Homo sapiens: one gene and its partners. The protein of the gene in region 3 interacts with the protein of the main gene of each other region in a biochemical or structural test. Each region holds a gene or a part of one and is shown on either strand. Other genes may lie near its edges. The genes, in order: JUN, CCNE1, FBXW7 and CUL1.

What was found.
Region 1: the proteins of FBXW7 (region 3) and JUN form a complex in vitro, tested with the Homo sapiens proteins (3 studies listed by BioGRID, with this or other methods).
Region 2: of the proteins of FBXW7 (region 3) and CCNE1, one has a biochemical effect on the other in vitro, tested with the Homo sapiens proteins (18 studies listed by BioGRID and IntAct, with this or other methods).
Region 4: the proteins of FBXW7 (region 3) and CUL1 form a complex in vitro, tested with the Homo sapiens proteins (3 studies listed by BioGRID).

The regions. Positions count from the first base shown.
Region 1 is NC_000001.11:58,781,013-58,788,428, reverse strand, and holds the start of JUN (transcription factor Jun), read left to right. Parts: upstream 1-4,381; 5' UTR 4,382-5,358; coding exon 5,359-6,354; 3' UTR 6,355-7,416. UniProt on the Homo sapiens protein: Transcription factor that recognizes and binds to the AP-1 consensus motif 5'-TGA[GC]TCA-3'.
Region 2 is NC_000019.10:29,821,956-29,824,812, forward strand, and holds the end of CCNE1 (G1/S-specific cyclin-E1), read left to right. Parts: intron 1-40; coding exon 41-175; intron 176-284; coding exon 285-396; intron 397-490; coding exon 491-648; intron 649-1,699; coding exon 1,700-1,822; 3' UTR 1,823-2,357; downstream 2,358-2,857. UniProt on the Homo sapiens protein: Essential for the control of the cell cycle at the G1/S (start) transition.
Region 3 is NC_000004.12:152,407,070-152,414,104, reverse strand, and holds part of FBXW7 (F-box/WD repeat-containing protein 7), read left to right. Parts: intron 1-1,575; 5' UTR 1,576-1,625; intron 1,626-2,232; 5' UTR 2,233-2,301; coding exon 2,302-2,802; coding exon of another isoform or gene 2,803-2,832; exon of another isoform or gene 2,833-2,945; intron 2,946-7,035. UniProt on the Homo sapiens protein: Substrate recognition component of a SCF (SKP1-CUL1-F-box protein) E3 ubiquitin-protein ligase complex which mediates the ubiquitination and subsequent proteasomal degradation of target proteins.
Region 4 is NC_000007.14:148,693,970-148,701,902, reverse strand, and holds the start of CUL1 (cullin-1), read right to left. Parts: upstream 3,001-7,933; 5' UTR 2,874-3,000; intron 2,194-2,873; exon of another isoform or gene 1,773-2,193; intron 1-1,772. UniProt on the Homo sapiens protein: Core component of multiple cullin-RING-based SCF (SKP1-CUL1-F-box protein) E3 ubiquitin-protein ligase complexes, which mediate the ubiquitination of proteins involved in cell cycle progression, signal transduction and transcription.

The DNA of each region.
Region 1 (7,416 bases), on a different chromosome or scaffold from region 3:
AATAACAACAATAAGCATAACAACAATAAAACTAAACAATCATTTAGAGGGCGATAACTAAGAACACTGCTATCAGAAGCTGAAGGGATGGTGATCTGTTTGGTAAACATATCACCTGTGATAATGTAGAAGGCAGATCATGAACCTGATGAACTAAAGAAAAGGATTGTAAAACAGAGAGTGAGTAGTGTGTGTTGGTGGCTGTTGGATGCATTCTGAAAGTTACTACAAGCTATTCAAAGATGAACTCAGAAAAATTTGGCCTGTTTGCAATCAGGAATGAAATGGAATAGAGAAAACCTATAAATCCAGGGATTTACATCGTTAGAAGAGGCAATTGTTTCCCAGTCCCGACTGGTAAAATATAAAATCAAGAAATACTTTTAGCAAGAAAGGACCTGGAAGAAACTAAGCTTTGAAGTAAGGATCAAGTCACAAAGTATGAACCTACTATTAAAACCTCAGGATAGGAGGCCGAGGAGGACGGATCACCTGAGGTCGGGAGTTCGAGACAAGCCTGACCAATATGGAGAAATCCTGTCGCTCCTAAAAATACAAAATTAGCCGGGCGTGGTGGCGCATGCCTGTAATCCCAGCTACTCAGGAGGCTGAGGCAGGAGAATCGCTTGAACCCGGGAGGTAGAGGTTGCAGTGAGCCGAGACTGTGCCATTGCACTCCAACCAGGGCAACAAGAGTGAAACTCCGTCTCAGAAAAAAAAAAAAAAGGATCAATTAAGATCTTACCCAGTATATACTTTCAACTGGACAAAATGGCTCTGGGAAAAGGAAGAAAGGTCTAACTCTCCCATCAAAACCCAATAAGCCCAAAGTGCTCAAAATCAAGTGAAGAGCAAGAGAGTGAGACGGCAAAAGAGAGACAGAGGAGTCAACAGGCAGGAGAGCAGGAAAGCAAAGAGATATGGCAAACCAAAGAAGTATGTCTGGAAAAGAACTTTGTGGCTATTGTCACATGGAACACCTCATATCAGATAGATAAGAAGCCTACCTACACATATTCAAGACTTAATGTCACTCTGCATCTCCCCAACTTTTAAAAGCTTATTTAAAAGCATATTTTCCAATGCCTGCTTTAGCTGTGGAAAAGGAAGACTCTCCGAGGGCAAATCCAGGAGTCATGGAAAACAATGGGCAGGGCAGCTTGGTGCTGTGACTGGATGGGTCTTTAAGGTTGTTTCCCTTGAATAAAGAATGAGGGAATTCCACCAGGGGAAGGAGAGTAGACCAAACATTTGGTGAACAGAAAGGGAGACAGAGTCTTTAGTGTTATTCCCCAAATATTCCTGGAGAGCCCTTTGAGACACCTGGTAGGATTATAGTGATCTAAAGAGGCATGGCCATGTGACTGCTTTGGCCAATGATGTATGGGCAGAAGTGATGTGTGCCATAAGTGGATGCTCTGACAGCCATGATGTTCCGAGTTCCTTCCCCACAGTCAGGATAGCTGTGAAAAGGGGTATCAACACGAGGCCTCCTTCAGCCTGAGCCCTTTAGTGACTACAATGAGCAGAGCTACCCTGCCAACCTACAACGGTCATGTAGCAGAAATGACCAACTTTCACTGGAATAAGCCACTGATATGTTAGGGTTGTTTGTTAGGGCAGCATAACACTGCCTTTCCTGACAGAACTGGGAGTGAGAGATAAGGCTGGAGAGAGAAGGAGTTGGATTGTGAAAAGCCCCTTCTCCAAGGCATAGGAATCGGAACTCTCCTGATTGTAAGGAAAAGCCAATGAAGGCTTCCAAGCAGGGGCGTTAACATGAACAGATTTGTTATTTTTTTGGATGAAATATGCTATTTCTCAACATAAGGAGAAGATCAGCCTACTAAACCACATGAGGCAGAGAGGAACACACAGAACCTTAGGCAAAAGATATATATTTATGCAAAGTCCTAAGTCTTGAAATTTCTAAATACAAGAGCTCTGAACGGAGTTACAGTCAGAGGATCAGGCAAGAAAATTTCTTCTATGCCACAAGCGCTATTTCCTCTGCAGATAACTAATACTCCACAAGAAAGTTTGCCAGAGTAGAGAAAATACAAAGGAATGTAACACAGACCTGAGGTCAATTTCCAGCTGCCTGTGTGACCTCAACAAAGATACTTAACCTCTCTGGGCCTATTTCCTCACATGTTAAATCTGGATAATAATATATGTCTCTCAAGACAGTTGTGGGGAGAAAACAGCGTATTTAAATTGCTTAGGAGAATGCCTGGCAGATAATAAGTGTTTAATACATGAAACTGATTTTTATTACTGTTATTAAAAAATATTTAGAACACCAACTCCCTGAATACAACAGAAAATGATTCAGGGCAACAGACAGAGGAGAATGTTCTCTCCTTGAGGAAGCAACTGGATCTTGTCATCACTGTATACCTACCTACCCCACCCCCTCCCCAGCTCAGTGCCTGGCTCACAGTAGGCTTTCAGTTACCCTCTGCAGATCAGTGAAAGCTAGGTGAGTGCCCGGAGTGAAGAAAAGTTGGCAGGTTTCCCACTGATACCAGCTGCTGTTGGTTTCTGAACACTCAAAGCCGCAAATACCTTAGGGCTGGGGGCAATGAACCCAAGGCTGAATTCCAAGTTCAGAAGCAGCGAAGTCTGAATTTAGAACCTAGGAACTTAAACTGCTGCAGGTCCAACTTCAAGCCCCAGTTTTAGACAGAGGCTTGGGAAAGATCTGACTTCTAACCCGGTTCCCCCTCCCCTCCTCCCCTCGATGCTTCTCACAGGAAAGTACACCTGGTCCTGCCAAATCGCACTCTTATATCCTGGCATCCTATCCAGGCTCTGCGAGGATGGAAACTGCGAGGCAGGGGAGGGAAGCGGGCTGTTTGGCCACCACCTCCCTAGTGCTGCAGGCGACCCTGTCACACTAACTCCTGGCAGCCCAGTGAGGTGGACGGCACCGGCCCCACCTGCAGATGAGGGAAATGAAGCTCGGAGGAGTTCCGTGATTTGCTTGCTTCACACTGTGGTAGCCTGGCCACGAAAGAACCAGGATTCCCGACTTCGGGATTCTTTCCACCACACACTTTCGTCCCTAAGGGGTGGGGGGCGGGGGGAGAATAAAATAACCGCGGAAAAGGAACCACTTACATGTGTCTAGCGCTTCCTAGAGGCTACCCAGGATATGCGCCCACCACCCGGCCGGGAGTGCAGAGATTTGAAGTCCAGGTTCTACCCCGGGCTCCGAGTACTACTGCGTGACTTTATGCGAGTGTCCGCCGCCTTCTGGGCTTGTTTTCCCGGAAGCAACTCGGCGCGGATGGAGTGTGTGTGTGCGCGCGCGCGCGCGTTATGTTGTGCGTGTTGTGTTAAGCGTGTGCGTGTTGTCCGGGGGCGGGAGGGGGAGTAGACTAACACCGGGGTTCCCCGAGTTTCGGATCGCCTACACGCTTGTTCCCATCTGGACCCTGTTACCCACCAATTGCGCCCACTATAAAAACTGCCCCTCCGAGGCAAAGCTGTGAACCCCCGCGCCCTTTCCCCCACGGTCCCGGAGGATGAAGTGGGGTGCAACGGAGACTCAGCTGAGCGTCCAGTTTCGGGCAATACAAATCTCTCGGCTTCTACGAGCAGCCAGACGACCCCGCGGACCGTCGCTCCTGAACTTGACCGAGATGCAAACTTCGGAGTGTTCTCAACGTGGGGGGCCGACTCTCGGGAGACCGCCCCTAAACTTAAGTCCCCTTAGGCTCGCCCCCACCTGGGACTTCACAGAGCCACCTTAAGGGCGGTATTCCCGCCCCCCCGGAAGTGCGGGGGGGTGGCAGCGTACTTGGATTCTCAGCCTCCAGCCCCGCGCGGTGGCGGCCGCCGGTGGATGACTTCGGGCCCCACAAGTGGGGAAACAACAACCACCCCTCGCCCGCACCCCTGGCCCAAAACAACTGGCCAGGTTCCCTGGCCTCCCGGGTCCCTGCATCCCCCGCATCCCCGTCCGCAGCCGTGAACTTGAGCCCCCCTCCATCAGAGGTTGCGAGCGTCCGCCCGCTCGCGGCAGCCACCGTCACTAGACAGTCAAACCCCAAGACGTCAGCCCACAATGCACCGGGCGGGCCGGGAAAAACGGCCCGGGGAGGGGACCGGGGAAGAGAGGGCCGAGAGGCGTGCGGCAGGGGGGAGGGTAGGAGAAAGAAGGGCCCGACTGTAGGAGGGCAGCGGAGCATTACCTCATCCCGTGAGCCTCCGCGGGCCCAGAGAAGAATCTTCTAGGGTGGAGTCTCCATGGTGACGGGCGGGCCCGCCCCCCTGAGAGCGACGCGAGCCAATGGGAAGGCCTTGGGGTGACATCATGGGCTATTTTTAGGGGTTGACTGGTAGCAGATAAGTGTTGAGCTCGGGCTGGATAAGGGCTCAGAGTTGCACTGAGTGTGGCTGAAGCAGCGAGGCGGGAGTGGAGGTGCGCGGAGTCAGGCAGACAGACAGACACAGCCAGCCAGCCAGGTCGGCAGTATAGTCCGAACTGCAAATCTTATTTTCTTTTCACCTTCTCTCTAACTGCCCAGAGCTAGCGCCTGTGGCTCCCGGGCTGGTGTTTCGGGAGTGTCCAGAGAGCCTGGTCTCCAGCCGCCCCCGGGAGGAGAGCCCTGCTGCCCAGGCGCTGTTGACAGCGGCGGAAAGCAGCGGTACCCACGCGCCCGCCGGGGGAAGTCGGCGAGCGGCTGCAGCAGCAAAGAACTTTCCCGGCTGGGAGGACCGGAGACAAGTGGCAGAGTCCCGGAGCCAACTTTTGCAAGCCTTTCCTGCGTCTTAGGCTTCTCCACGGCGGTAAAGACCAGAAGGCGGCGGAGAGCCACGCAAGAGAAGAAGGACGTGCGCTCAGCTTCGCTCGCACCGGTTGTTGAACTTGGGCGAGCGCGAGCCGCGGCTGCCGGGCGCCCCCTCCCCCTAGCAGCGGAGGAGGGGACAAGTCGTCGGAGTCCGGGCGGCCAAGACCCGCCGCCGGCCGGCCACTGCAGGGTCCGCACTGATCCGCTCCGCGGGGAGAGCCGCTGCTCTGGGAAGTGAGTTCGCCTGCGGACTCCGAGGAACCGCTGCGCACGAAGAGCGCTCAGTGAGTGACCGCGACTTTTCAAAGCCGGGTAGCGCGCGCGAGTCGACAAGTAAGAGTGCGGGAGGCATCTTAATTAACCCTGCGCTCCCTGGAGCGAGCTGGTGAGGAGGGCGCAGCGGGGACGACAGCCAGCGGGTGCGTGCGCTCTTAGAGAAACTTTCCCTGTCAAAGGCTCCGGGGGGCGCGGGTGTCCCCCGCTTGCCACAGCCCTGTTGCGGCCCCGAAACTTGTGCGCGCAGCCCAAACTAACCTCACGTGAAGTGACGGACTGTTCTATGACTGCAAAGATGGAAACGACCTTCTATGACGATGCCCTCAACGCCTCGTTCCTCCCGTCCGAGAGCGGACCTTATGGCTACAGTAACCCCAAGATCCTGAAACAGAGCATGACCCTGAACCTGGCCGACCCAGTGGGGAGCCTGAAGCCGCACCTCCGCGCCAAGAACTCGGACCTCCTCACCTCGCCCGACGTGGGGCTGCTCAAGCTGGCGTCGCCCGAGCTGGAGCGCCTGATAATCCAGTCCAGCAACGGGCACATCACCACCACGCCGACCCCCACCCAGTTCCTGTGCCCCAAGAACGTGACAGATGAGCAGGAGGGCTTCGCCGAGGGCTTCGTGCGCGCCCTGGCCGAACTGCACAGCCAGAACACGCTGCCCAGCGTCACGTCGGCGGCGCAGCCGGTCAACGGGGCAGGCATGGTGGCTCCCGCGGTAGCCTCGGTGGCAGGGGGCAGCGGCAGCGGCGGCTTCAGCGCCAGCCTGCACAGCGAGCCGCCGGTCTACGCAAACCTCAGCAACTTCAACCCAGGCGCGCTGAGCAGCGGCGGCGGGGCGCCCTCCTACGGCGCGGCCGGCCTGGCCTTTCCCGCGCAACCCCAGCAGCAGCAGCAGCCGCCGCACCACCTGCCCCAGCAGATGCCCGTGCAGCACCCGCGGCTGCAGGCCCTGAAGGAGGAGCCTCAGACAGTGCCCGAGATGCCCGGCGAGACACCGCCCCTGTCCCCCATCGACATGGAGTCCCAGGAGCGGATCAAGGCGGAGAGGAAGCGCATGAGGAACCGCATCGCTGCCTCCAAGTGCCGAAAAAGGAAGCTGGAGAGAATCGCCCGGCTGGAGGAAAAAGTGAAAACCTTGAAAGCTCAGAACTCGGAGCTGGCGTCCACGGCCAACATGCTCAGGGAACAGGTGGCACAGCTTAAACAGAAAGTCATGAACCACGTTAACAGTGGGTGCCAACTCATGCTAACGCAGCAGTTGCAAACATTTTGAAGAGAGACCGTCGGGGGCTGAGGGGCAACGAAGAAAAAAAATAACACAGAGAGACAGACTTGAGAACTTGACAAGTTGCGACGGAGAGAAAAAAGAAGTGTCCGAGAACTAAAGCCAAGGGTATCCAAGTTGGACTGGGTTGCGTCCTGACGGCGCCCCCAGTGTGCACGAGTGGGAAGGACTTGGCGCGCCCTCCCTTGGCGTGGAGCCAGGGAGCGGCCGCCTGCGGGCTGCCCCGCTTTGCGGACGGGCTGTCCCCGCGCGAACGGAACGTTGGACTTTTCGTTAACATTGACCAAGAACTGCATGGACCTAACATTCGATCTCATTCAGTATTAAAGGGGGGAGGGGGAGGGGGTTACAAACTGCAATAGAGACTGTAGATTGCTTCTGTAGTACTCCTTAAGAACACAAAGCGGGGGGAGGGTTGGGGAGGGGCGGCAGGAGGGAGGTTTGTGAGAGCGAGGCTGAGCCTACAGATGAACTCTTTCTGGCCTGCCTTCGTTAACTGTGTATGTACATATATATATTTTTTAATTTGATGAAAGCTGATTACTGTCAATAAACAGCTTCATGCCTTTGTAAGTTATTTCTTGTTTGTTTGTTTGGGTATCCTGCCCAGTGTTGTTTGTAAATAAGAGATTTGGAGCACTCTGAGTTTACCATTTGTAATAAAGTATATAATTTTTTTATGTTTTGTTTCTGAAAATTCCAGAAAGGATATTTAAGAAAATACAATAAACTATTGGAAAGTACTCCCCTAACCTCTTTTCTGCATCATCTGTAGATACTAGCTATCTAGGTGGAGTTGAAAGAGTTAAGAATGTCGATTAAAATCACTCTCAGTGCTTCTTACTATTAAGCAGTAAAAACTGTTCTCTATTAGACTTTAGAAATAAATGTACCTGATGTACCTGATGCTATGGTCAGGTTATACTCCTCCTCCCCCAGCTATCTATATGGAATTGCTTACCAAAGGATAGTGCGATGTTTCAGGAGGCTGGAGGAAGGGGGGTTGCAGTGGAGAGGGACAGCCCACTGAGAAGTCAAACATTTCAAAGT
Region 2 (2,857 bases), on a different chromosome or scaffold from region 3:
TTCTCAATCATCGGTCTCTTTTCTCTCTGTTTTCCTTTAGGCCCTTAAGTGGCGTTTAAGTCCCCTGACTATTGTGTCCTGGCTGAATGTATACATGCAGGTTGCATATCTAAATGACTTACATGAAGTGCTACTGCCGCAGTATCCCCAGCAAATCTTTATACAGATTGCAGAGGTAAGTGGCTCCATCACGTCCGTGGGGCCACCTTCCCTGCAGCTGGAGTGAGGAACTCTAGAATAGGCGTGTGGTGGCATCCATCTCAGCGTTCTTTTCTTCTCCGTAGCTGTTGGATCTCTGTGTCCTGGATGTTGACTGCCTTGAATTTCCTTATGGTATACTTGCTGCTTCGGCCTTGTATCATTTCTCGTCATCTGAATTGATGCAAAAGGTTTCAGGTAAGTTGGCTTTCCAGTGCATGCACAAACAAGGTGTACTAAGCTTACATCCAGTTGTCAGCCTCAGATTAAGCCCACGATGTCTTCACTGCAGGGTATCAGTGGTGCGACATAGAGAACTGTGTCAAGTGGATGGTTCCATTTGCCATGGTTATAAGGGAGACGGGGAGCTCAAAACTGAAGCACTTCAGGGGCGTCGCTGATGAAGATGCACACAACATACAGACCCACAGAGACAGCTTGGATTTGCTGGTCAGTGCTGCTCCTTCTTTCAGTCCTTCTTGGCCAAATTCTTAAAACTGCCTAAATAGGCCAGCCGCGGTGGTTCAGGCCTGTAAACCCAGCACTTTGGGAGGCCGAGGTGGGCCGATCACTTGAGGCCAGGAGTTCAAGACCAGCCTGGCCAACATGGTGAAACCTTGTCTCTACTAAAAATAAAAAAATTAGCCGGCTATGGTGGTGGGCACCTGTAGTCCCAGCTACTCGAGAGGCTAAGGCAGGAGAATCATCTGAACCCGGGAGGCGGAGGTTGCAGTGCGTTGAGATCACGCCACTGCACTCCAGCCTGGGCAACAGAGCGAAACTATGTCTCAAAAAAAAAAAAACTGCCTAAATAACCTGTTCACTTTTCTTCAGGCAGGCCCCAAATATCCTTGAAAAACTCCAATTTTAATTAATTGAAAAAGAAAAATCCTGGCAAATTGATGCTGTATCTCACTATCATATAGACTATAGAGTTTTAAAGTGCTCTTTGATATTTTTTTTTCTTTCACTCACCTCCGTAGAAAAAGACATAGTGGCCAGACACAGTGGCTTTTGGAGGCCAAGGCAGAAGGACTGCTTAAGCTCAGAAGTTTGAGACTAGCCTGGACAACATAGGGAGACCCTGTCCCTAAAAAATTTAAAAACTAGCCAGGCATGGTGGCACATGTCTGTAGTCCCAGCACTTTGGGAGGCGGAGGCGGGCAGATCGCCTGATATCAGGAGTTCAAGACTAGCCAGGCCAAAATGGCGAAACCCTGTCTCTATGAAAAATACAAAAATTAGCTGGACATGGTGGCGGGTGCCTATAATCTCAGCTACTCTACTTGGGAGGCTGAGGCGGGAGAATCGGTTGAACCCTGGAAGTGGAAGTTGCAGTAAGCCGAGATCCCACCACTGTACTACAGTCTGGATGAGAAAGCAAGTCTCCATCTTGAGAAAAAAAAAAAATTTAAAAATTAAAAAAGAAAAAGCCTATGGTAATTGAAGCCCAAGGATATGTTCTACTCTAATGTGTTGTCCCTTTTATTCTTACCAACAGGACAAAGCCCGAGCAAAGAAAGCCATGTTGTCTGAACAAAATAGGGCTTCTCCTCTCCCCAGTGGGCTCCTCACCCCGCCACAGAGCGGTAAGAAGCAGAGCAGCGGGCCGGAAATGGCGTGACCACCCCATCCTTCTCCACCAAAGACAGTTGCGCGCCTGCTCCACGTTCTCTTCTGTCTGTTGCAGCGGAGGCGTGCGTTTGCTTTTACAGATATCTGAATGGAAGAGTGTTTCTTCCACAACAGAAGTATTTCTGTGGATGGCATCAAACAGGGCAAAGTGTTTTTTATTGAATGCTTATAGGTTTTTTTTAAATAAGTGGGTCAAGTACACCAGCCACCTCCAGACACCAGTGCGTGCTCCCGATGCTGCTATGGAAGGTGCTACTTGACCTAAGGGACTCCCACAACAACAAAAGCTTGAAGCTGTGGAGGGCCACGGTGGCGTGGCTCTCCTCGCAGGTGTTCTGGGCTCCGTTGTACCAAGTGGAGCAGGTGGTTGCGGGCAAGCGTTGTGCAGAGCCCATAGCCAGCTGGGCAGGGGGCTGCCCTCTCCACATTATCAGTTGACAGTGTACAATGCCTTTGATGAACTGTTTTGTAAGTGCTGCTATATCTATCCATTTTTTAATAAAGATAATACTGTTTTTGAGACAGCTGGTTTTATGAGCTATGTCTGGTAACTTAAGGTAGCAGTCAGCTTTAATTGTGGTTATATCAACTTCTGTTTTTTGACTTCATACTTCTTGAGGCTCAAGTCTTTCTTTTTTTTTTTTTTTTTTTTTTTTTTTTTTGAGACAGGGACAGGGTCTCGCTCTGTCACCAAGGCTGGAGTGCAGGGGCACAATCTTGGCTCACTGCAGCCTCTGCCTCCCGGGTTTAAGCGATTCTCCTGCCTCAGCCTCCTAAGTAGCTGGGACTACAGGCGTGTGCCACCACACCCAGCTAATTTTTGTATTTTTAGTGGAGATGGGGTTTTGCCATGTTGGCCAGGCTGGTCTCAAACTCCTGACCTCAGGTGATCTGCCCATCTCAGCCTTCCAAAGTGCTGGGATTACAGGTGTGAGCCACCACACCCAGCCTTGAGTCTTAACTCTTTTGGTCAAATACATTTTTCAATGTATTTGATGGAAAGGAAACTTTAGACGTGGGCTTC
Region 3 (7,035 bases):
AACACGCATAAAAAAGGTTATGCATTGATCAGTTGGCAACAGTGTTGTGACCAGAGGCTTGTGAGAACTGTATTTCCCCTAGGAGCAATGGCTCAGTATTTGTTAATTCAGTGGTTGCAGCAATTTTATAGAACACAATTACTGTGAATGGGAATCAACTGTATTTGATTAACGGTGGTGATTTATAGGGACTTTAGATACCAGAAATGTTTCATAATTCCCTTTCTCTGAAATCACTGTTTTAATATGTTTAAATGCATGCATGCAGAGTTGTGATGTTAAACATAATTTTACTGTGGGTTCTGGTCAAAAAAGATGAAATGTCATTGGTTAACTTGAAAGAGACATTATTCTAAACATTATCCTCCAGAAAATTGACATGTACAGGAAGCATATTGAATGCTCAGCAAATAATTTGTTTTAGAGTAATAATCTTTGAGTATTGTAGTGATTCGAGTTTTGGAAAAGAAGGCAGTATCAGTGTTAGAGAATAATATTCTTTCAGGATTTTATGTAGTTACTTTAAGGTGCATGAAAGGAGACTCAGTTGGGTGTTAAATTCTTGTCCCTGCTTTACTTGAAACTAGTAATCTTGAGAAATTTACTAAATCATTTTGAGCCTTGATTACCTTGCCTGCAAAGTGAGGAACATTTTCAATTTAAAATTCTATTTCTTTTATTAGTATTCTTCCTGACCTTGAATCATTTCTATTCCCATCATGTCCAGTTGCCAAGAAAACCATGCAACTTAATGTTGTTTGTTAGCCATCAGATTTTATTTTACTGAACTCAAGTTCAGTCACATCAGTTACCGATAAAATAATAAGTTCTATATTAATATTTGATATATCTTGACATTTTGTATTATGGTAGGAAGAAATAAAAGACCTTCCTCAAATTTTAGGATATGGGCTTCTGTTTGTTGATGTTTGTGTTTTATGATACACTGTTGTAAATCATACTAAAGGTTTTCTCTGAAAAAGACTAGAATTGACAATACTTCATTTGTTAGCAGTTTCAAGTTTTAGATCACGGGTGCATAATTTCTTGTGTGTGCACAACATGTTGGCATTTTATCTGACTTCAAAGATGTCCATATAGATACCAGCAAAGGATAAAATGTAAGAATGAATATCATGAAAAGATGCTGTATCAGATAAAATTCTAGAGCCTAGGTTAAAAAACATAAAGGCAAACATGCTTGATATATAAAAATTGAGAAATATGATAAAAAGAAGTAAGTTTAAAGCATCAGTAATACCACTGCCTAAGATGCAGTTTATTTTGAAATGTTGTCTTCTAGTCTTCATACAGTTTAAAAATCATACTATAATCACAATTTCCAGCATTTTCCCCTTAGCATAATATATTATAACATCCATGTTTTTAAAAATATTTTATGAACGTCATGTTTAGGGATTACACCATATATATCCCATCTCATAGATTCCTTTATATTGAACATTTGGATTTTTATTTACATTTTTATTTACATTTATTTTTATCTTTATTTTTTGCTTTCGTGGATAAACTGCAGTGAGCATCCTCTGTATAAATTTTTTTTTTCTGTTTTAGGATTACTTCCTTAGGATAGATTGCCAGAAGTGGAGTTACTGGGTCAGAGGGTATGAACTTATGAACTTTTTTTTTAAATAAATTTTTTGTTCATTTTCTGTCCAGTCATTTGTAAAAAAATTAAAATAATAATGATTATAATTGTTACCTGCTAGAAAACTGTGTCTGAAGGCAAGATTCTGTGATCAGAAAAGTTTGGGAAATACCCAGGGTAAAAAGCCTTTTAATCTGATTTACCTCAGCATTTCCCAAATTAACTGAACACTGAAAATTTTTTTTGATACACTTCTTAAAATTTTGTGGAAGTTTTATATAGGATATAGTCTATGAACTACTGATGTAAAATTAAAATTGTTTTATTTGCTTGAAATATTATGTTTTATTGGTCAAAGGAATTAAACTATAAATCTTCATGCTAAAAATTATTAAAAGGGATTAGTGTTGTTTACTATGGTTTTTGTGCATGTCTTTATAAAGTCTTATAACTTTTAAAATTGAAATGTTCTATATTGTTTACTAAAGAACATTTTAATGCCTTGGTGGCATCAATACTTTTTTGCAATCATTAATGATATTTAGAAAGTAGACATATAACATGAAAGTAGAACATAATATAGATTGTACAAATCTTGTTTTTTACCCTATTTTCCCCTGCAGAATGTGAAAACCTTTGCATCTTCTGATAGTCTAGCCAAGGTCCAAGAAGTAGCAAGCTGGCTTTTGGAAATGAATCAGGAACTGCTCTCTGTGGGCAGCAAAAGACGACGAACTGGAGGCTCTCTGAGAGGTAACCCTTCCTCAAGCCAGGTAGATGAAGAACAGATGAATCGTGTGGTAGAGGAGGAACAGCAACAGCAACTCAGACAACAAGAGGAGGAGCACACTGCAAGGAATGGTGAAGTTGTTGGAGTAGAACCTAGACCTGGAGGCCAAAATGATTCCCAGCAAGGACAGTTGGAAGAAAACAATAATAGATTTATTTCGGTAGATGAGGACTCCTCAGGAAACCAAGAAGAACAAGAGGAAGATGAAGAACATGCTGGTGAACAAGATGAGGAGGATGAGGAGGAGGAGGAGATGGACCAGGAGAGTGACGATTTTGATCAGTCTGATGATAGTAGCAGAGAAGATGAACATACACATACTAACAGTGTCACGAACTCCAGTAGTATTGTGGACCTGCCCGTTCACCAACTCTCCTCCCCATTCTATACAAAAACAACAAAAGTGAGTATATTCAATATATTGTTAACCTGAGAAACTTTACATATCTATTTTAATTGTAATGAAACTTTCCTCACAGTCTTTGTATTACTAAAAATTAATCTTAAGATGTGTAATAATAAAATGAACTAGTTTTTTGTCTTACAGAAGGTAATGGAAAGTATTACAAGTAGAAATACTGATAATGGGACAATCTGAGTACAAATGGAGGGAAAGTAATTGAGCCTATTACTATGAAAAATTATTAACATCAAATTTTCGTCTAAACCTTGCGTCCCGGGCAGGGATTAGTAGCTTGTGTGGGGTGTAGAGGTTTCGGGTGAAACATGATTTGTGTAAATCAAGTAATGAAGAAACTTTTTATTTACAAAATGCAGCTGCTAGAGTGGGCTATTCACAAGTGTCACTCTAAGGCATAAATTACTCAGAAGTTGCCTCAAATTAGTTCTAGTTATTTATCATTTGAGAATTAGAAATAATGAATATTCATGTAGAGTAGACTTACAAGTTAAACTATGTTTTGGAAAGGAACATTTTAACTTGAATATACTTGTTTTATAGACATTAACATAATGTCTGTGGTAGTTCATCCTCTTACTCCTACTTGCTTATTTCTTACATTTTACAGTGATTTTAGGCCATAAACAATATACAAACTGATTTAACATCGTATCGTTTAACCTAACTTGACTTGGAATGAAGTATCTTACACACTTGGATTAATAATAATTGAAATGCTAAATCATGTTTTACATCTGCTTGTAAAACCTTACTTTCTAAAATGTGTTTGGCCCTAATTTACCTAGCCTATCTGCAAGTCAGATTTTATTTAGCTGGCATGATCTAAGAAGGACGTGACATCAAGTAGTGATTTTTCATCCATTGTACCATCCCTGTCTCAAGATGTTGAAGCAGTAGCTTTGGATCTCAGCCAGATGGCTCTACCACTAACAACTATAGCACCACTTTGTTAAGGCTCAGACCTTTTATAGTGTCATTCCTCCCTTTTGCCCCCCTAGTCTTGATCATCTTCTTCAAGGTTGCTATATCAAAAGGGAGTTTTAACATCTCTTTTTTTCCTGAGGGTTCAGTTAGAGGAATAGGGGTTTAATACTTAAGGTCCAATTGCACTAACTTATTTCAGAAAGAGGTTCAATCAAAACTAAGCCTTGCGGAACAATGCAGAGTTATTGCTGATTTCTGCTACACTTTAAATTAAAAGCAAAAAAAGCTAGTTAGACAAAACATTATCTTTTTCCAAAAGGAAAAGTCATCCTTATATTCTGTAGGAAACCTTCCAGTTCACAAGTTTGACAGGTGCTTTATCTTTTCTTTACCTTCAAGATGTAAAATTTTGTGTATGATGATTACCTTTTTAAAAACGAAGTATACTGAATTTGTTAGTTTTTTTCTAGTGATTCTGAATCATGAATAACAATTATTGTCCTGTACATATAACAAGAATGGACTGGGCTCTAACCATAGAAGGAATACATGTGTGTATGCATTTATGTATATACACATGTACAGTATAGATGTGTGTATGCATTTATGTATATACACATGTACAGTATAGATGTGTGTATGCATTTATTATATAAGTGTGTATGTATAGTTTTTGATATATTGTTGATCATGAGATGATCTGCCTTCGTAAGTATGGCATGAAGAATACAAAGCTATTTGATTGCCAGGACAGTGATACCCTTCTACAAGTAAGATTTCAGTCTGAAATTTTTCTAAATGTTTTCCTTTTTGTCCATTCCTGAAACCCTTCTGCCAGAGTATTCCCAGAGCACTTTCAACAGCATTAAAAAAAGTCACTGAGTACTGCTTCACCTAAAAAGAAAATGTCAGTATTCTCCGTGTATACATGTTTTAATACAATAAATAGAAGCTCTCACTAGTTGAAGTACTTTATTTTGGAAGAGCTTTAAATTCTTGATCATTATAAAGTTAAGACACTTCTACAGATGTTACCCTAGACCATAGTTTCATTCAAGTCTTCTTTGACTTTTGAGAGTAGAGGCATAAGAAATGAAATCCCATTTTAAATGTTAACATAGGATTAGCTTTCTACAAATTTTACTCAGGATACCTTTCAAGTTTTATTTTTTGGCATTCTCATAAACAAACCCTGTGGACAGCTAGACTGAATTTTACCCATCATCCCTAAATATGCTGCATAAGCAAATATATTAATGAGAAAAAAAGATTTTTAATTCTTCCTTGCATTGCTTTATTCTTTGAAAGCATTCTGAAAACTGTCAACACTCTGAGGACAGTTTTTCCCCCCTTGTCACTAAAGGTTTGTTCTTTTGGGAGCCTTATGGCAAGCAATATATGTTAAAAATTCCATGTTGTCTTAATGTTAAAAGTCAAGGGAAGTGGTAGTCAAGAATTGCTATTTATTAAGCTCACACTGTTTGAAAGATCCTACTACAGATACATAAACAAAAGTTACAGAGAGGCCGAATGATCCACCCCAGATTACACTACGTGATGAGAGATTTTAATCCTGATTTGCCTAATAGCAAAAAACCCCTTTCTCTTTCCACATGCTATGCTGCCCCCTATGGTTGAATTTGACAAACATCACTGAACAAGATTTCCAACATAGTCAGAGACTCTGCCATGTGATGATTTTCTGATACTATGTCCCATTTGAAGTGATAAGAGCTACCCTATAGAAAGGACAGAGGGCTCAGTTAACTACTTTTCTTTGTGGCACTTAACAAAACATTATTGAAGATTTTACAGCTCAAGGCTAAAGTAATCAGGAACAAATGACGCTGTTAAAAAATTTTATAGAGGTCATACTCTCTTGAATCCATAAAACATGCTTTTAAAGCAGAGGTTGTGTGCTGGCTATTCCTCTAAATCTTGCTTCTCCAGATACAAATGTCTGTCTCTTCAGTTTTAACTCTCATTCTCAACATCCTTATCATATTTTTTTAAAAAAAGTTGTTTTCTGAAGATATGCCCAGCTCATATTGAAGAATCTTTGACATATTTTATGCAGAATATCAACTAATTTTCTACTAACATGAAAAACAAATGAGATGATTATTAGGCCAGATCTGGTATCCTGATCTTTTGATGAAGAGAAGTGTGTTTGAGCATTAATTTCTGATGCTTCCATATCTATCTTAGTGGCTTCCACCTGTTCTCTTCTCACATAACTTCCTTACCTCAAATTAGTCTATTTTTTTCCCATCTTGATTGTTAGATTCTTCCTAGTAATTAAATCGTTTTTATCCATTTGCCTCAAATAAGAAATAAATGTTTATCAAAAAATAAATATATATAAAAGATAGCCAGGTGTGGTGGCTCACACCTGTGATCCCAGCACTTTGAGAGGCTGAGGTGGGCAGATTGCTTGAGACCAGCCTGGGCAACATGGCAAAACCCTGTCTCTACAAAAAATACAAAAATTAGCTGAGTGTGATGGCATGCGCCTGTGGTTCCAGCTACTTTGGGGGCTGAGGTTGGAGGATCATTTGGGCCCAGGAGGTTGAGGCTGCAGTGATCTGGGCCACAGAGCAAGACCCTGTTTCAGAATAAATAAATAGAGGGTGGGGGGAGGTGTGGAGAAGCATCTAGTGTATTGGAGTTTAGAGGCGTAAGACCCTTTCTTGTCTATAAATTCTGAACAATAGAGGAATCAGGTAATAGGATCATTAACCAATCAGGGTATCTGGTCCGCCATTCTCCAACCACCTCCTAGGACCAGAGCTGCTGAGCAGCTTTGTAGGATAATGTGGCTAACATTGGAAATATAACAGGGCTCTAAGTTACACTCTGTTGTAGAGTTCTAGAGAATGATAGCTTCTTCAGAAAGTCCCTGGCCTAGTCTACCTGCAAGACAAGCAACTTAAGTTCAAAGTCTGTTTGGTATATACATGTCCAGAGAGCAAAAAATGCTATTTAAGGCAGTCATCTTGAATAACATCCACTAGTAAACATGGCCCAATGAATAGCCATGTCCCCTACCTTTGTGAAGGAGGAAAAATGAAACATTGACTCAGCCTAATTTAGCCCAATTTTAAACATGTGGGGAGGATAATGGAAATGGGAGAAATGGGGACAATGGGTGAGATGGGTTTTCCCCTAACATATTAGAGTGATAAGAACTTTTCACATCTGAGTTTGAATTCTGATTATACCACTTACTGTATAACCATGAGTATATAATCTCAGTGAACCTATTACTTTATCTGTAAAATAAAGACTCAT
Region 4 (7,933 bases), on a different chromosome or scaffold from region 3:
TGACTCAAGGTCACTGGCTTTAGGACCTACGGAAGGCTGAAACAGCAAAACAAACAAAAAACCAAGTTCCTAAGTTTTTAAGGCCCTAATATTTTTAATTTGAAGAATGGCAAGTAACAACTCCTCAATTTAAAGTACATTCATTTTAATTTTCCATGCTGAAAGACAGACACCACTGGGTATACTGGGAATGACATTCTGATGAATGGCCCTCAGAGACCAAGGGATGGTTCCTCCTACAGCAACTTCCTATCCCACTCCAGCAGAACCATGGGGCTTGCCTCATCTACAAGGAGGAGCCTTAACTACCAAACTGCTTCATTGCAAAGGCAAGGCTGGATACTCAACCTGGGGGGAAAAACCTGATCGTGTTTCCAAAAAAACACCAAACACAAAAAGTAAAAACATCCACACCTTAAAACTAGTTTTAAGGGGGAAAAAAGTTAAAGTTTCACAACCTGTTTTCTTGGCACTTTCCCAGACTTCCATAGGTATAGAAAACCTGGGCATTTTTCTGTTAGGGCCCTGTACTAGATACTGGGGTGTTTCAGGGAGAAGGGAAGTGAAGAGGGAAGGGGGAATAGAAAAGGAGGGATGAGAGAGACGATCAATTTTACTCGAGAAGTGTATAATAAAGCTTGAATTCTTAACCGGCTTAAGCACAACGACTGTGTTTTCTGTAGCCAAAAATCAGCGCATGTTTTCAAACGTTAAGTTTAAGTTAGAATTATTCCAGAAAACTCATTCATTAAAAAAAAGCAACTGAGGCACCACCACAACCAAGTTCTGTTACTCTGGGGACGCAAAAACAAATAAGGAATATCTCCTGCGCTGGAGGAATTCACAATCGGAAATGTATGGGAAATAAGGCTGTCATGTAGTTAATTACAGCTAGAAGATAATATTCAGTAAGTGGCAAGAGTCTAATGAACTGTAATATCTAAGGAAACCATGCAGAATCAGCTCAGGCATGCGTGTCTGTCTTCTGATGTGGTACACACATTAGGAGTGGGGGGTGGGGCTGGCTATAAGGACCTGAGCATGTGGCTCTCAGGGAGGGAGGCTTTTATAAATTGGTGAAAAACCCTAGCATATCTAAATTTGGTTTGTTTTTTGACAAAATCGTTTTTAAAAGATGAAGCCAATGAGAAAAAAAGTTTAACATATTTAGAAAGCAATTCAGCCATCCCTCTCAAGCTTAAGGAACACTCTCCTGAAACCTCCAAAAATGGGCATTAATAGAGTTAAAGCGAGCCAGTCTTGTGTTTGCATGCTTTGGAATTTGAAATGTAACGCAACTATTTCGACTCACCATGGAAAACAACAAATAGAACCTTCAAGTAAAACATTTTTCAATATCCAAAAACAAACCTTCTTTAAACAAAGAAAAATCTCATCTCCAAATATCTTTTTCAAACAGAATGACTGGTTTTACATTTTAAACATCATTACATATTTTACTACGTAATACACTCTCCAGGATTTCAGAAAATCGGGTACATTTTCGGGTGCACCATGAAATGAAGTGTTAAACTTAAAACTGCACACACTTCTGCGAGGCGTTAAGCTATGCTTAGGTCCTAGAAGCTCATGGCTTGAAGTAAAAAAGGAATCTAGTTCCTCTTCTGCCGCTTCGTTAAGTGCATTCCAAAAAGTGTGATCGTTTACTCCACTCAGAACTTTTGACGATTTTAATGCTACTACAGGAAAGAGCAATTACACAGAGCAAACAAATATTTAAGTAGACTGCAATTCAGTATTTGCGCACTTACCACTAACCCCTACTACGAACCAGAAGCAACCAAGAGTGACCCAATCGGAAAAGAGAATCCTCTTTTTGGCAAAGCCAGCCAGGGAGAAAACCCTAACTTTGGGGATTCATTTCAAGGAATGTCTACAAGCATTCCTCTCTTTCTTATCTTATGTCTGCGCTACACAATACTGCACGGGTGGCAGAAACGGGGGTCTTTCAGATCTTAAGGGAAAAAAAAGCGACGACCCCCGAGTCTGGGGACCCCAAGTCCCAGCGGCCTGGCGGGCGCACGGCTACCCTCAGGGTCAGGGCGCGCGCTCCCGTTGGGACCGGGGGCGCGCCGAGGCCGCAGCGCAGGGCCCGGCCCGACTAGCGAGCGATAGGCGGGCGCCGGGGGGCTCTGTCCGGTTCGGCCGCCGGGCTAGCATCCCTGCGCGCATGCCCCGGCCCGCTCTCCCAGGAGAACGGGGCAAAAGGGCGACTGTTACCCAATAATAGCGCCCTGCACGTTCGCAACAATGCAGGCGGGGAACCCGAGAGCCGCGGGCAGGGAACCGGAAAGCGAGAGAGCCCGGCTCCGCGGCTGCTCCTGCGCTTGAGCCCAGAGCTCACAGGGGAACACGCGTCGGCCGGAAAGCAGCGCCGGGAAGAAGCGTGGGCGCGAGGGGGCAAGGGCACGGGTCCCGGCGTCCCGCGGAGGTCGCCTCACCAGGCGAGGCGCGGACGCCCGAGCCGCCCCGGGCCACACGTCGGCCCACCCTCCGAGAACCCAGCCCGGTCGCGGCGGGGAAAGGGGCCGGCGCCACCAGGCCGCCGCCTCCAGGCGCGATGAATCGTGCTTTTTCCCAGTGCGTAGTCCAGGCCTGGCCGCCCCGGCCCGTCCGGGGTGACTCAGGGCCCGGCCCCGCTCGCTCCTCTGCCACCTTCGGCGTCCTCCGCCCACGAGTCCCCCGGCCCGGCCGCCATTCTGCCCGGCCGCGTTTCGGCGGCTCAGGCCTCGCCAGGCGCCTGGTTTCGGCCGTCGCGGCCCGAGTCACTGCGACACCGCGGCTCGGGGCCGGGCCTGCGCCGCCGCCGCCGCCGCCACCTCCTCTCGGCCCCGGCGGCTGCCGACACTCACCCGCATCTCTGTGGTGCCCCAAAGGCTCCCGCGACGCCTCCGCCTGGTCCCTGGGCCTGGGCCCCGGCGAAAGCCCCGTCCCGCCAAGGTCTAGCTGCGTCCCTCAGCTACCGGGGCTGCCCCGCCTGGAGCTGCGTGCGACACGGCGCCCGCCTCCTCCTCCTCCCCTGCCCGCCCGGCCCTCCTCCTCCCGCCGCCGCCGCCTGCACCACGCAACCTCCGCCCTCTCGCCTTCCCTGCGCGGCTCCCCGCCCTCTCGGCCTCACCGGCTCCGGCGACCGCGGGGGAGAAGCTGTTGGGGGAGGGCCGGAACGCACCGCCATCGGCGTCCGGGGCGGGGGAGCCGGGAAACCGTCGTCGCCATCGCCCCGCCAGCCCGAGGCGCGGGAGGGGCCCGGAAAGCTCCCTCCCGCCCGCTCGCCGCTGCCGGCGGCCCCGGGGGCGCCCCTTCCGCGGCCGAGGCCCCCGCTCGCGTGGGGAAGCTTCTACCTGCGAGCCTGCGGCCCCTGCCCCCGGCACCCGAGACATCCCCGACCCGGCGCGCCGGATTCTCTGCCAGGTTTTACAGCCTCCCTCGCCTTGGGACCGCCGCGGAGGACCCGTTCCCGCCACTTCGGACCTCGCGAGCGGGGCTGAGCTGCTTGGGTCGGGGACACCACCAGCCTCTGGAGAAACGGCCCGAAGCACCCCGAAGAAGAGGGGGTCCCAGTCCCCTGCCCCTCCCTTGTGCGCACCCCCACCCCCAGCTTGCCTGGAACCTGACTCCACACCTTTGTCGACCGGGACAGGGACTGGGGGTTGCACCCCAGATCAGAAAGTCAGAGGTGGCCCTCCGAATCGGCGCGGACTTCCGAGGAACCTCAGCCAATTCTCGACCCCCTTACCACCTGCAAGGCCTTAGGAATCGGCTCCAGAAAGCTCGAGCTTATCTGCGTGTTTCGTTTTAAAAATCACTTCTAAGATAAAACCTAACTAGGCTTTCCCCTTCAGACTTTCAGTAACTCCTGTTTGGCAAATTTTGACATTCACTCTATCCTTCGTCTTTGTAAGGACATATCAAGACTTAGAAGGCTTTGATTACACATACGGATGGCATGAGTCGTGATATAAAATAGTATTGTTTTCACGTGTACTTCGAAGTCATCTCATTTGAAATTAACTGTCATAATTGACTATTTGGAATATTCAACCTAAATACTACCCGCTGCTGTGGTGACGGGGGGTGGAGGAAGCGTGGTGGAACCCCAACACCTAGTGAGGGGTGGCTGATTAATACCACGGCTCACAACATAACAGAGCGGCTCATTCCATGAACAACCCCGGGGGGATTTCGAATTCTATCATCTGGGCAAAAGATGTGATGAGTGTAACTTCCTGTTTTCTCCAAACTAAAACACTACGCAGATTCCTGTACCGCTCTGGGACAGAAATCCTCAGCCAGAGCAGAGGCCGTCCCCAGAGTCCACACTGTTTCCTGCATAAAGTGGGTTATCTCAGAAGAAACATCCCACTGGTCTGTGTGATCCTTCTATTGAAATGTGGTCTTTTATCTACATCTAAGTATCTCTAGAAGTAATGCGTTTGTATGTACTTGTCACTCAGATATGTAATCCCTTAATTTGTGCGGGGTTTTGGGGTGTGAAAAATTCTTGGTTTATATCCTACACTTTTAAATAACCTCGTCAAAACTTACATGTATTTAACACCTTTTTTTGTGAGCACATGGTAAGGTTGGAAGTAAAAATGGAAGGTTTATCCCTGTGGCCCATGTTTTCCAGTGTACCTATGTGGGGTTTTAAAAAAATGTCCCAATTTCTTCCTTTTACTGGAGACTGCGTTTTTTAGACAACAGCTTATCTTCCTATTCCCTAACCAGTCTTCTCCAATCTTACCATTCAATATAGCCTCCTTTTCTGTGACTTCCTCCAGCTGAATAGAAGGGCTGAGTGGGTCAACCTTCCCTGTATTGTTTGTTTCCTCCACCCTCTCTTTTTCCTTAATAGCAGTATTTGGTCCACCCACACCACCCTCTCTCTTCTCACTGCCTCCATTCCTGGTTCTTAACTCCTTTCTATTCTTTACTCTCCACCTGCCTACACGATCATTCTTAGCAGCAAATTTATTCCATCGACTTTTACGTCCACTTAACATCCAGATTGCATTTACTTTGCGCAGATAACCTTGCCGCCTACCTCACAAGTCAAGGCCACCTGCTGCTCTCTTTCTACTTTAAAACATCCTTCCTCCATCTTTACCCCCCAACTCAGCAAAATTGATGTCTCTCTCGGATGACCCAAAGTTTGGAGGGATAATTAATTTGATAGATGTCAGAATCAAAGTTCAAAACAGTCTCAACAGGCTACAACATTAGGCCAAAAGCAATGAAATAAAATATAACTTTCAAATCTAAATATGATGTACTAGCTGGAAAAGCCCAAGTTTTAGATTTTAGACCTTGGTTTGTATCTAGTTACCCAAATTTGAGTCATATCCAGTAACTCAAATTACTATCTTTTGCTCTAGTAAGGTCAACTGTTAATTTGAGATAAAAATACCTACTTCATAAGAGTGTGAAGAGTAATTTATTTATAATTCCCACGTAATTCGTGGAACATTCACCAACCATTAGTTCCCCTCCCTTCCTCATCGTCCACAAAGTGGTTGTCTCTGTTGCCATTCATAACACATTCTTTAATTCATACAGACCTGGAAACAGACTCAAAATCCTGGCCCGTTCACCTTGTATCCCAGAGCTGTCACCATCGTAGAGAAATCGTTTGCCTCTTTTGGGTCAGTCATTATCATCATCATACCCATTTTTTCAATGAAAAAACCTAAGGCTCAGAGATGTTAGGCAATTTGCTCCAAATCACTCAGCCTGATCAGTGGCATAACCTGACCCAGTGACTCATGATTCTGTGTATATCCACTCCTTTACTAAGATATTCTCCCACACTTATGTTGGTCCTTTAGCCTTCTAAATGCTTTTCCTGGTTCTTATCTCTTTATCCTTCCACTTGTGTCCTGACTGATGGCAGATTATTCCTTCTAAACTGATACCTTCATCATTATAATTTTGTCCTTTCAAGCTTCAGTGGTTCCATATTGTTTATAGTGTTCAATCCAAATTTGGACCTGGCACTTAAGGTTTACCAGATCTTGTCCAAACTTGCATTTCCAAATTTATTTCCTGCCACTTCCCAGAAGGAACTCTCAATGCCATCCGGTCCTGTTGGTTGTACTCACTGGCCCACAGATGAGCTGTGAGTCGCCATTTATGAGGGCCTCCTTCAGTTGTTCCCTTAACAGATACCATTTCCCACTTCTTTCCTCCATCTCCAAATCATGCTCACTTTTCAAGATCCAGCTCACACCCCCTCCCAGGAAGCCCACCTTACACCTTCTACCCAAGCTTTGTGATCTCTCCCTGATTGCCTGTTCACATGTGCCTTTAAACTAGGTGGTCTGTGCTGTGGGGTGAGAGACAATTTCCTAAGGTTCACCTGCCCCCTCAGCACTGTGCCCAAAGAACACTGAAGCAGATTCCAAGCAAATTTGCTTACTACTGAAATGAAAGGGTACAGGTGTTACTTGATTAACCATATGAACTGTTATTTCTAAGACACAGGTAAGTAACTAGCCATCCAGCGCAAAGTGAATTAGCAGGATGGTTCTCAAACCTGGCTTTGCTTCAGAATCAGCTGGGGACTTTACTAATTCCGAGGGCCCTGTTCCAGATCTACTGAATCAAAAGTAGGTGGGAAGCAGCCGGGAGGGAACATGAAACTGCCAGAGTTTATATCCTGGCATCGTTGCTTATTATCTGGGGAACTTTGAGCAAGTTACTTAACCTCTCTGTGCCTCAGTTTCTTCGTCTATGACATAGGGATGATAATAATAGTAGCTTGGCCGGGCATGGTGGCTCATGCCTGTAATCCCAGCACTTTGGGAGGCCAAGGCAGGTGGATCACTTGAGGTGACCAGCCTGGCCAACAAGGTGAAACCCTGTCTCTACTAAGAATACAAAAATTAGCCGGGTGTGGTGGCATGCACCTGTAATCCCAGCTACTCAGGAGGCTGAGGCAAGAGAATCGTTTGGACCCAGGAGACAGAGGTTGCAGTAAGTGGAGATTGCGCCACTGCACTCCAGCCTAGGGTGACAGAGTGAGACTCTGCCTCAAAAAATTAATAATAATAGTATCTCATATAAGGTTGTTGTAAGTTAAATCCTTAATAAATATTACCTATGACAATGATAATTTTTCAATTAAACTTGTTTATTTAATCCAAATCATGAAATATACATTACTTGTGATTTTTTTAAAAAAAATAGTTCTGCTTATAAACGTAGTTACGTATATGCTGTAACTAACTATACAGAGTAATTCAACTAGATTAGTATCCAAAGGAAGCTGGAAAGAGATGAAATAATCGAACGATTTCTTATACCTAGATTTTTAAATTCTTTTTGAAGAAGTAGGTGTTTAAGTCCCCTAGTTTAATTTCTTTCTTACCTTCTGTCCTTTTTTTTTTTGAGACAGGATCTCACTTTGTTGCTCAGGCTGGAGTGCAGTGGCATGATCATGGCTCACTGCAGCCTCAACTTTTTGGACTCAGGTGATCCTCCCACCTCAGCCTCCCAAAGTGCTGGGATTACAGGCATTACTGTAACCCGGCCTAATCCCCTACTTTGGTTTCATTAAAAAGGATTTTGTAGCTAATTTTGGTCCATCAAATGCCAAATAAACAAGATTGTAATAATAGAGGTAACTAGATGTAAAGTATGATGCAGAAATACACTTACCAAAGTCACAAACTGTCTGAAGGGGAAACATAGTATTGGTAGACCTCATCCTCTCGACTCTTGACTTATAAGTTGCCTATGTAAACAAATACACAAAGGCCTTGTTTTTATTGCCTGGAATTCCACCAAAGATTCTTAAGTATCATTTCTTAAAGATGCAAATGGCTCTAGGAGGTAGGAGTGCTTGATAGTTGTTCACACATTGGCATTAACTAGTTCAATCAGGTTGCTTTTTTTTTTTTTTGAGATGGGTTTC